Linked DNA regions of Homo sapiens: region 1 is reported to be linked to region 2. The links are microRNA targets in miRTarBase. Many come from high-throughput screens and were not tested one by one. Region 2 holds a microRNA gene; the other region holds the end of a gene's coding sequence.

What was found. Region 2 holds the annotated microRNA hsa-miR-33b-3p (CAGUGCCUCGGCAGUGCAGCCC, at 2,710-2,731, opposite strand). A microRNA usually pairs through its seed, bases 2 to 8, with sites in the 3' UTR of a target mRNA and lowers its output. Matches are read on the target gene's strand: a 7mer-m8 pairs with bases 2 to 8, a 7mer-A1 pairs with bases 2 to 7 and ends in A, and an 8mer does both.
Region 1: the mRNA of HMGA2 is a reported target of hsa-miR-33b-3p. The part of its 3' UTR that is shown has no 7-base or 8-base seed match.

The regions. Positions count from the first base shown.
Region 1 is chr12:65,962,462-65,966,816 of GRCh38, forward strand. HMGA2 (high mobility group AT-hook 2) reads left to right here. Exons shown (of 5, transcript NM_003483.6): 5 at 784-3,830. The coding sequence ends at 831. Among named protein-coding and RNA genes, the nearest start is that of HMGA2-AS2, 16 kb to the left of the region's middle.
Region 2 is chr17:17,811,148-17,815,535 of GRCh38, forward strand. MIR33B (microRNA 33b) reads right to left here and starts at 2,784; the gene lies at 2,689-2,784. RAI1 (retinoic acid induced 1) reads left to right here. Exons shown (of 6, transcript NM_030665.4): 6 at 1-306. SREBF1 (sterol regulatory element binding transcription factor 1) reads right to left here. Exons shown (of 19, transcript NM_004176.5): 13 at 4,074-4,182; 14 at 3,688-3,797; 15 at 3,468-3,600; 16 at 3,098-3,263; 17 at 2,422-2,622; 18 at 2,221-2,332; 19 at 187-1,704. The coding sequence ends at 1,475. MIR6777 (microRNA 6777) reads right to left here and starts at 2,398; the gene lies at 2,333-2,398. RefSeq lists an enhancer at 1,610-2,168.

The sequences.
Region 1 (4,355 bases), not on the chromosome of region 2:
ATGTTTGGTCGATGCGGATTAGTATTGAGATTGAGCAGTTAACGCCGAACTTGGGTCACTGTCTCAAAATGTGCTTTAATAAATACAAGGGGGAGGAAATGGATTTGGGAAGGCTCGTTGTCAGCTCTGCCCCTGCTCTCACACTGCCTCTGCACAGTGGTGTAGGGGTCACACACAGGTGTTGGCACCAGTACCAACCCGACCCAAATCCTGGTCCCACACACCCTGTAATTTTGGGCACATTACTTGTCTGTGCCTTGGTTTTCTCAGATGTAAAACAGGAATATTAACAGAAGGTGCCTAAGCATCTGGTAAGCACTCTAAAAATACCAGCTATTATTACCAGTATCTGGAGGGTGGGTTCATTTATACCTTAAGAAAGGATCCCCCTAACTCTATTTTTCTTGTGTGCCGGTTTTTAAAACTGATGAATGGCATGCTGTCGGGAAAAATTTATCCATTCCTACTTTTTTTCTAATTGGTGAGTAAGCGTGCATTGCCCTGACATTCTCTGGACAGCAAACAATTGAATTTGCTGACCAGCCGCCATGATGTCAAGCCTTAAGTCAACAGTGGCTAATGACCGCTCTGGGAAAAAACAACACCTTGATTCCTCAATTACGGTTTAAGAAGCCCTGGGAATGAGGGCTCGCCAGTCATCGTCATCCTCTTTTGAGGCAAGCATAATGTGCTGTGGAAACAGGTTACCTCTGCACTGTTGGCAAGAGCAGCCCACACAGTATAACGATTGAGCGTCATGGCTGTGCCCTTTGTGTGTTCCAGGAGGAAACTGAAGAGACATCCTCACAAGAGTCTGCCGAAGAGGACTAGGGGGCGCCAACGTTCGATTTCTACCTCAGCAGCAGTTGGATCTTTTGAAGGGAGAAGACACTGCAGTGACCACTTATTCTGTATTGCCATGGTCTTTCCACTTTCATCTGGGGTGGGGTGGGGTGGGGTGGGGGAGGGGGGGGTGGGGTGGGGAGAAATCACATAACCTTAAAAAGGACTATATTAATCACCTTCTTTGTAATCCCTTCACAGTCCCAGGTTTAGTGAAAAACTGCTGTAAACACAGGGGACACAGCTTAACAATGCAACTTTTAATTACTGTTTTCTTTTTTCTTAACCTACTAATAGTTTGTTGATCTGATAAGCAAGAGTGGGCGGGTGAGAAAAACCGAATTGGGTTTAGTCAATCACTGCACTGCATGCAAACAAGAAACGTGTCACACTTGTGACGTCGGGCATTCATATAGGAAGAACGCGGTGTGTAACACTGTGTACACCTCAAATACCACCCCAACCCACTCCCTGTAGTGAATCCTCTGTTTAGAACACCAAAGATAAGGACTAGATACTACTTTCTCTTTTTCGTATAATCTTGTAGACACTTACTTGATGATTTTTAACTTTTTATTTCTAAATGAGACGAAATGCTGATGTATCCTTTCATTCAGCTAACAAACTAGAAAAGGTTATGTTCATTTTTCAAAAAGGGAAGTAAGCAAACAAATATTGCCAACTCTTCTATTTATGGATATCACACATATCAGCAGGAGTAATAAATTTACTCACAGCACTTGTTTTCAGGACAACACTTCATTTTCAGGAAATCTACTTCCTACAGAGCCAAAATGCCATTTAGCAATAAATAACACTTGTCAGCCTCAGAGCATTTAAGGAAACTAGACAAGTAAAATTATCCTCTTTGTAATTTAATGAAAAGGTACAACAGAATAATGCATGATGAACTCACCTAATTATGAGGTGGGAGGAGCGAAATCTAAATTTCTTTTGCTATAGTTATACATCAATTTAAAAAGCAAAAAAAAAAAAGGGGGGGGCAATCTCTCTCTGTGTCTTTCTCTCTCTCTCTTCCTCTCCCTCTCTCTTTTCATTGTGTATCAGTTTCCATGAAAGACCTGAATACCACTTACCTCAAATTAAGCATATGTGTTACTTCAAGTAATACGTTTTGACATAAGATGGTTGACCAAGGTGCTTTTCTTCGGCTTGAGTTCACCATCTCTTCATTCAAACTGCACTTTTAGCCAGAGATGCAATATATCCCCACTACTCAATACTACCTCTGAATGTTACAACGAATTTACAGTCTAGTACTTATTACATGCTGCTATACACAAGCAATGCAAGAAAAAAACTTACTGGGTAGGTGATTCTAATCATCTGCAGTTCTTTTTGTACACTTAATTACAGTTAAAGAAGCAATCTCCTTACTGTGTTTCAGCATGACTATGTATTTTTCTATGTTTTTTTAATTAAAAATTTTTAAAATACTTGTTTCAGCTTCTCTGCTAGATTTCTACATTAACTTGAAAATTTTTTAACCAAGTCGCTCCTAGGTTCTTAAGGATAATTTTCCTCAATCACACTACACATCACACAAGATTTGACTGTAATATTTAAATATTACCCTCCAAGTCTGTACCTCAAATGAATTCTTTAAGGAGATGGACTAATTGACTTGCAAAGACCTACCTCCAGACTTCAAAAGGAATGAACTTGTTACTTGCAGCATTCATTTGTTTTTTCAATGTTTGAAATAGTTCAAACTGCAGCTAACCCTAGTCAAAACTATTTTTGTAAAAGACATTTGATAGAAAGGAACACGTTTTTACATACTTTTGCAAAATAAGTAAATAATAAATAAAATAAAAGCCAACCTTCAAAGAAACTTGAAGCTTTGTAGGTGAGATGCAACAAGCCCTGCTTTTGCATAATGCAATCAAAAATATGTGTTTTTAAGATTAGTTGAATATAAGAAAATGCTTGACAAATATTTTCATGTATTTTACACAAATGTGATTTTTGTAATATGTCTCAACCAGATTTATTTTAAACGCTTCTTATGTAGAGTTTTTATGCCTTTCTCTCCTAGTGAGTGTGCTGACTTTTTAACATGGTATTATCAACTGGGCCAGGAGGTAGTTTCTCATGACGGCTTTTGTCAGTATGGCTTTTAGTACTGAAGCCAAATGAAACTCAAAACCATCTCTCTTCCAGCTGCTTCAGGGAGGTAGTTTCAAAGGCCACATACCTCTCTGAGACTGGCAGATCGCTCACTGTTGTGAATCACCAAAGGAGCTATGGAGAGAATTAAAACTCAACATTACTGTTAACTGTGCGTTAAATAAGCAAATAAACAGTGGCTCATAAAAATAAAAGTCGCATTCCATATCTTTGGATGGGCCTTTTAGAAACCTCATTGGCCAGCTCATAAAATGGAAGCAATTGCTCATGTTGGCCAAACATGGTGCACCGAGTGATTTCCATCTCTGGTAAAGTTACACTTTTATTTCCTGTATGTTGTACAATCAAAACACACTACTACCTCTTAAGTCCCAGTATACCTCATTTTTCATACTGAAAAAAAAAGCTTGTGGCCAATGGAACAGTAAGAACATCATAAAATTTTTATATATATAGTTTATTTTTGTGGGAGATAAATTTTATAGGACTGTTCTTTGCTGTTGTTGGTCGCAGCTACATAAGACTGGACATTTAACTTTTCTACCATTTCTGCAAGTTAGGTATGTTTGCAGGAGAAAAGTATCAAGACGTTTAACTGCAGTTGACTTTCTCCCTGTTCCTTTGAGTGTCTTCTAACTTTATTCTTTGTTCTTTATGTAGAATTGCTGTCTATGATTGTACTTTGAATCGCTTGCTTGTTGAAAATATTTCTCTAGTGTATTATCACTGTCTGTTCTGCACAATAAACATAACAGCCTCTGTGATCCCCATGTGTTTTGATTCCTGCTCTTTGTTACAGTTCCATTAAATGAGTAATAAAGTTTGGTCAAAACAGATCAAGGAGGGAGACACTCACAAGTCATTTTGTTGCACCCCTTGCACACATCTTGGCACACATGTACATAAAGTGTGTTTTACATATCATACTCCTTCAATCAACTGCCCTGAGCTCGCCTTTCAGATTTTGACATTTAATTCTACAGAGACAATCTTAGAAGAAACATGAAGAACAAGCTGTAGCTCCAAACTACAGAATTTTTACTTCAGGCTAGCACCTACAAAGTTTGTAAGGGAAGTAACTAATGCACTAGTCGTCTTTGAAGTAACATTGGAAAGAGATCCGGAAGATTGATGAATAAGAAATGAAAGCCACGAAGAGTCTCCTAGATAGGAGCCTTTTAACTCTAAAAACTACTAGCAGAGTCAGAATGATTCTACCAAGTTCAAGGTCAACTTGACACTTAAGTTGCTAATTATGAATAAATCTAGGATTTTTAAAAAGCTAAAACTTTCGGTTTTTACTATCACCGTTGTTACTCAAATTTTCTTCATTTAGCTTCTTAGAAGGAGAAATTTGTTTC
Region 2 (4,388 bases):
CCCAGCCCAGGGCCGCCCTAGCAACTTCCTGTACATATGACTGTAAAATGGTAAACGTGTGTATTATATCTGGCCTCGTTATATAGTGTATATATATGTATACATATACATATATATAATATATATGAAGACTGTAAATGTTAAGACGACTAGTGTTCTTATTAGTATATTGCTTCACACTGAAGATTGTGTGTATCGAGCTGTTTCTAAAAGATGTTTATTTTCCTTAAGAGTAAAAAACAGTCATTGCATTCAGAAAAAAAAAAAAAAAAAAGTCAATAAAGATACAACGATTGTTTTGGAAAATCTGCAGCCCGTGGATTCCGACCAGATTCAGCTGGGAGCCGGGCCAGGCTTTAGGTTGGGGAATGGGAATGAAGGGAGGGGCTGGGGGGGGGGGCATGAATGGAGTCAGGGAGTCGGCCTTTCACAGAACAGGAAACCTCCCCCGCCCCTGTGCCCCCTCTCCAGTGTGGCGGCAGGTCGGGAGGGAGGAGGCTTCTTTGCTGTGAGATGACCAGGGGCCGGGATGGGGGAGGTGAGACGTGCCAGACTTCTTGCAGGGAGACCCAAGCTGTAGCTCCTGTCACACAACAGGTCCTGGAAGTCAGTCCATCCTCCCGTGCCACCCAGGGACCTGATGGGGACAGAGCTGGGAGGTGAGAAGGGACAACTGACCCCATGGAGGCCCTAAGGGTTGACACAGCCCAACCATGTGCCCTGGGAGCAGGGGGAACAGGTAGGCTGGAGGCCATACAGCCAGCCCTCCCCACTCCTCCCACTAACAAACAAACATCGGGAAGAGCTAAGTTAAAAGTTGTGTACCTTGTGGCCGGAGGGGGAGGGGAAGCCTTTCCCTAGGTGCTGGGGGAGGGCCCAAGCACTCTCACTAGTCAGCACATCCATCAGCTGAAGACACAAAACCCAGATTATAAATAATTTCATTTTTAATTCTCTGTACAAAACTTCTCAATCTATGAAAATAAAGTTTGCAAAAGGCAAAGTAGCACAGGAGCCTCAGGTCAGGAGGCTAAGCACGCTGACCTACACTATGTACACGTCTCTCTCCCACGACGGAGAGAGAGGCCTCTGGGGCAGAGCCCTGCTTGCAGTCCGGGAAAGCCAAGTTGGCTTCCGTCAGCACAGGGAAATGTACCCCTCTCTTCCCTGTACACAGGAGGAAAAAAGCCACTAAGGTGCCTGCAGAGCAAGGAGGGGGGCCCCCCAAAATGGCTCGGCCCCTGCAGTGCCCCGATCGGCCACCAGAGGTCAGCACCATCATGGCCGCCGGTCTTAGGGTCAAGATCGCGCCCCTCGGGCCTTCCACCGCGAAGGCACACAGCAGCCGCAGGTCGAACTGTGGAGGCCAGAGTCTCTTGCACTGCCTTCGGCCTTCAAAGCTTCGACGCAGGACAGAAGCTGCACGGGACCAAAGTGGCTAGAGACAGGGGTGCTGAGGCCGGGGACACGGGGTCTAGCTGGAAGTGACAGTGGTCCCACCGCCCAGGCGCATGAGCATCTGCTGACAGTCGTGCAGCAGCCGGCGATCGCCAAGCTTCTCGAGTGTGCGCGCCGCCTCAGCCAGCATGCCCACGCGCTGCCCGGGCGCCGACAGGAAGCCGGGGGGCAGGTAGCAGGAGGCCAGCAGCAAGGCCTCCGCGTGCTCCCGCCGCGTGGGCCGCGGCTCCAGCTCCGCCACCGCGCCTGCGCACACGAGGATGTGTCAGGGATGGGTCTCAAGCTGGCCACGCCCCCGCGGGAGCCCTGCCCACACACAAGCCACGGCACCAGCCGCCTGTACCTGGCACACAGGTACCTGGCGGGGGCCTGGCGGGTTCCCCTCTCCCCACCCTAGTCTCAGCCCACACACAAAGTCCACAGACTGAGTCACGCACGTGCAGTCATGTATCCCACAAATGACAGTCACCCCACTGATTCCTTGTGAAAGGAATTGTCATCAGGTAACCATCAAGAAGATGCTTGGTCTTTTTTTTTTTTTGAGACAGGGACTCTCCCTGTCACTCAGGCTCACTGCGGCCTCCAACTCCTGGGCTCAAGCTGTCCTCCCAACTGAGCCTCCCAAAGTGCTAGGTGTGAGCCACTGCGCCAGGCCTGTCTGTCCCGTCTGACACACACACAGCCTCCCTTGGTATCACATCCCATGTGCGCCCTTCCCTGCTGAGCAGACAGCACATCCCTGGTCAGCAGCTGCCCCCTCACCTCCTTTGCCACCGGGGCCTGCCCGCCGCCTCAGACTGCGGTCGAGGAGCTGGTGTGTCCGTGTGGGGCTGGCCCCCGCCATCAGCCGGGCCGTGGCCTCATGTAGGAACACCTGGGGGCCAGGAGAGTGGAGGCTCAGGGCTCTCCATCTCCACCACTGCCTGACTCCCCGTCTTGAGGACAGGGCCATCGGGCACTCACCCTCCGCATGGCGGGCCGGAAGCTCTGTGCCAGCCGCCTCAGGCTGCTCAGGTCCCGTTGGAAGCCACGCAGCTCAAGGGCGGAAGCCTGGGGCCTGCTGCTGGTGCCCTGGGCTGCTGGGGCCGGGGCCGGGGGCTGCTGCTGCCGCCACAGGCTGGTGCGCACCACAAGAAGCAGGTCACACAGGAACAGCTGCACGGCCTGGGGGTGGCAGGCAGGGCAGGGGTCACCAGGGCTCCAGCTCTGGGAGGGGCAGGATGGGGGCCCGTGGTGCCAGGGGCCGGCTCCGGGCTGCACTGCCGAGGCACTGCACCCGCCTCACACACGTGCAATGCAACAGCAATGCACCGCGGGGCCGCCCGCCTCTCTCGGCCCCCACACCCGCCACCGGCCCGGGAGCAGCTGTCCAGCCCTCCTGATGCAGGGCCTCCAAAGGGATCCTACCACACCATCCACCCCCCTCCTCCCAGGGATGGGGAAACTGAGGCCAGATAGGGGCAACCCCTCTCCTCTGGACAGAAGCCTTAGCCAAAAAGCAGGGTCTGCTGGACCCCCTATCCTGTGCTGCTTGGGCTAACCCCATGGTCTTCTGCAGCCCCTGGGGGCTGGGGAGAGGAACCAGGGAATGGAAAGCTGAATCCCCCAGCCCTGCCAGGCCCCTGACCCCACCCCTCACCTTGTCAATGGAGCTGCTGGCTGGTGTGGTAGCCAGGCTGTCCTGCAGGTACCCACTGGCCTTCTCACAGATGGTCAGGCTGGCTGGACCAGACTCTGCCTTGGCACAGCCCAGCAGGGCCCGGGCAGCCTTGAAGGAGTGCAGAGCTGCCCTGGGCAGGGGTCTCCTGTTGGGACCAGGGCAGAAGAGTGCCAGTCAGACCAGTCCACAAGCCCTGGCTGAGTGCCCCCCACTTCCCTGGCTCGAGTTCCCTGAGGAAAAAAGGTGGTGACTCCTCCTGCACAGAACAAAGGCTGAGTGAGGCACAGTGCCCAGGGGATGAGGAAGGCTGAGCCCGGGACCAGGCAGGAGGAACCTGCCGTGCACTCACTCAGACTCCTGCAGCACCCGGGGCAGGTGCTCCACCAGCGGGCACAGCCGCTCAGCCGCCTCCTCATCCCGCCGCAGCCAGTGGATCACCACAGCTGTCAGAGAGGCCCACCACTTGGCCACCGGGTCTACGCCTGCAGAAGAGGGAGGGTCCCCTGAACCCTCAGTCACGCTGCACGGGGGAGCTGAGAAGGGAGCCAGGACAGGGGCCGGGGACTCACCGGTGGTGGTGGCCATGCTGGAACTGATGGAGAAGCTGTAGGCAGGAGCCCCCGCAGCATCAGAACAGCTGTTCAGCAGCTGCAGGTACCCGAGGGCATCCGAGAATTCCCTGTGGAAGGAGAGAGCTGGCTGTCGGAACAGATGGCAGGGGTCCTAGGAGGGTGCTCCCCACCTGCCCTCCAGAGTACAGCCTGGCCCCTGGCTCTGCAAAGTGCCACTGTCTCCTCCCACAGGCTGGTGGGGAGAGGAAACTCAGAGAGGAATGAAGCGTGCATGGCACGCACGGTAGCCCAGCTCTGGGCTCTCTCCACAGGGTTGAGGCCAGAGCTATTCTCAGAATCCCGCCGGAGGGGCCTTGCCTGGAGGAGGGCACAACGACACTTACTTGTCCCCATCAGCTGACCCAGGGCTGGGGTTGGGCTGGGTCACACAGTTCAGTGCTCGCTCTAAGAGATGTTCCCGGAATAGCTGAGTCACCTGGGCCAGGGGGTCCACTGTGGAGAGGAGGAGGTGAGTGGGGTGGGGAGCAGGGCCCCACCCTCCTCTCCAAGCTAAGGGCTTTTTCCTGGGTGGGCTGGGGCCACACCTAGGGCCACTGGGAAGTGCCGGCATGCCCCTGGGTGCAGCCCCTGCCAAGGACAGGGGAAAGCGGGTGGACATAACTATCACCAGCACCAGCCTTGGCCAGGAGACAACACTG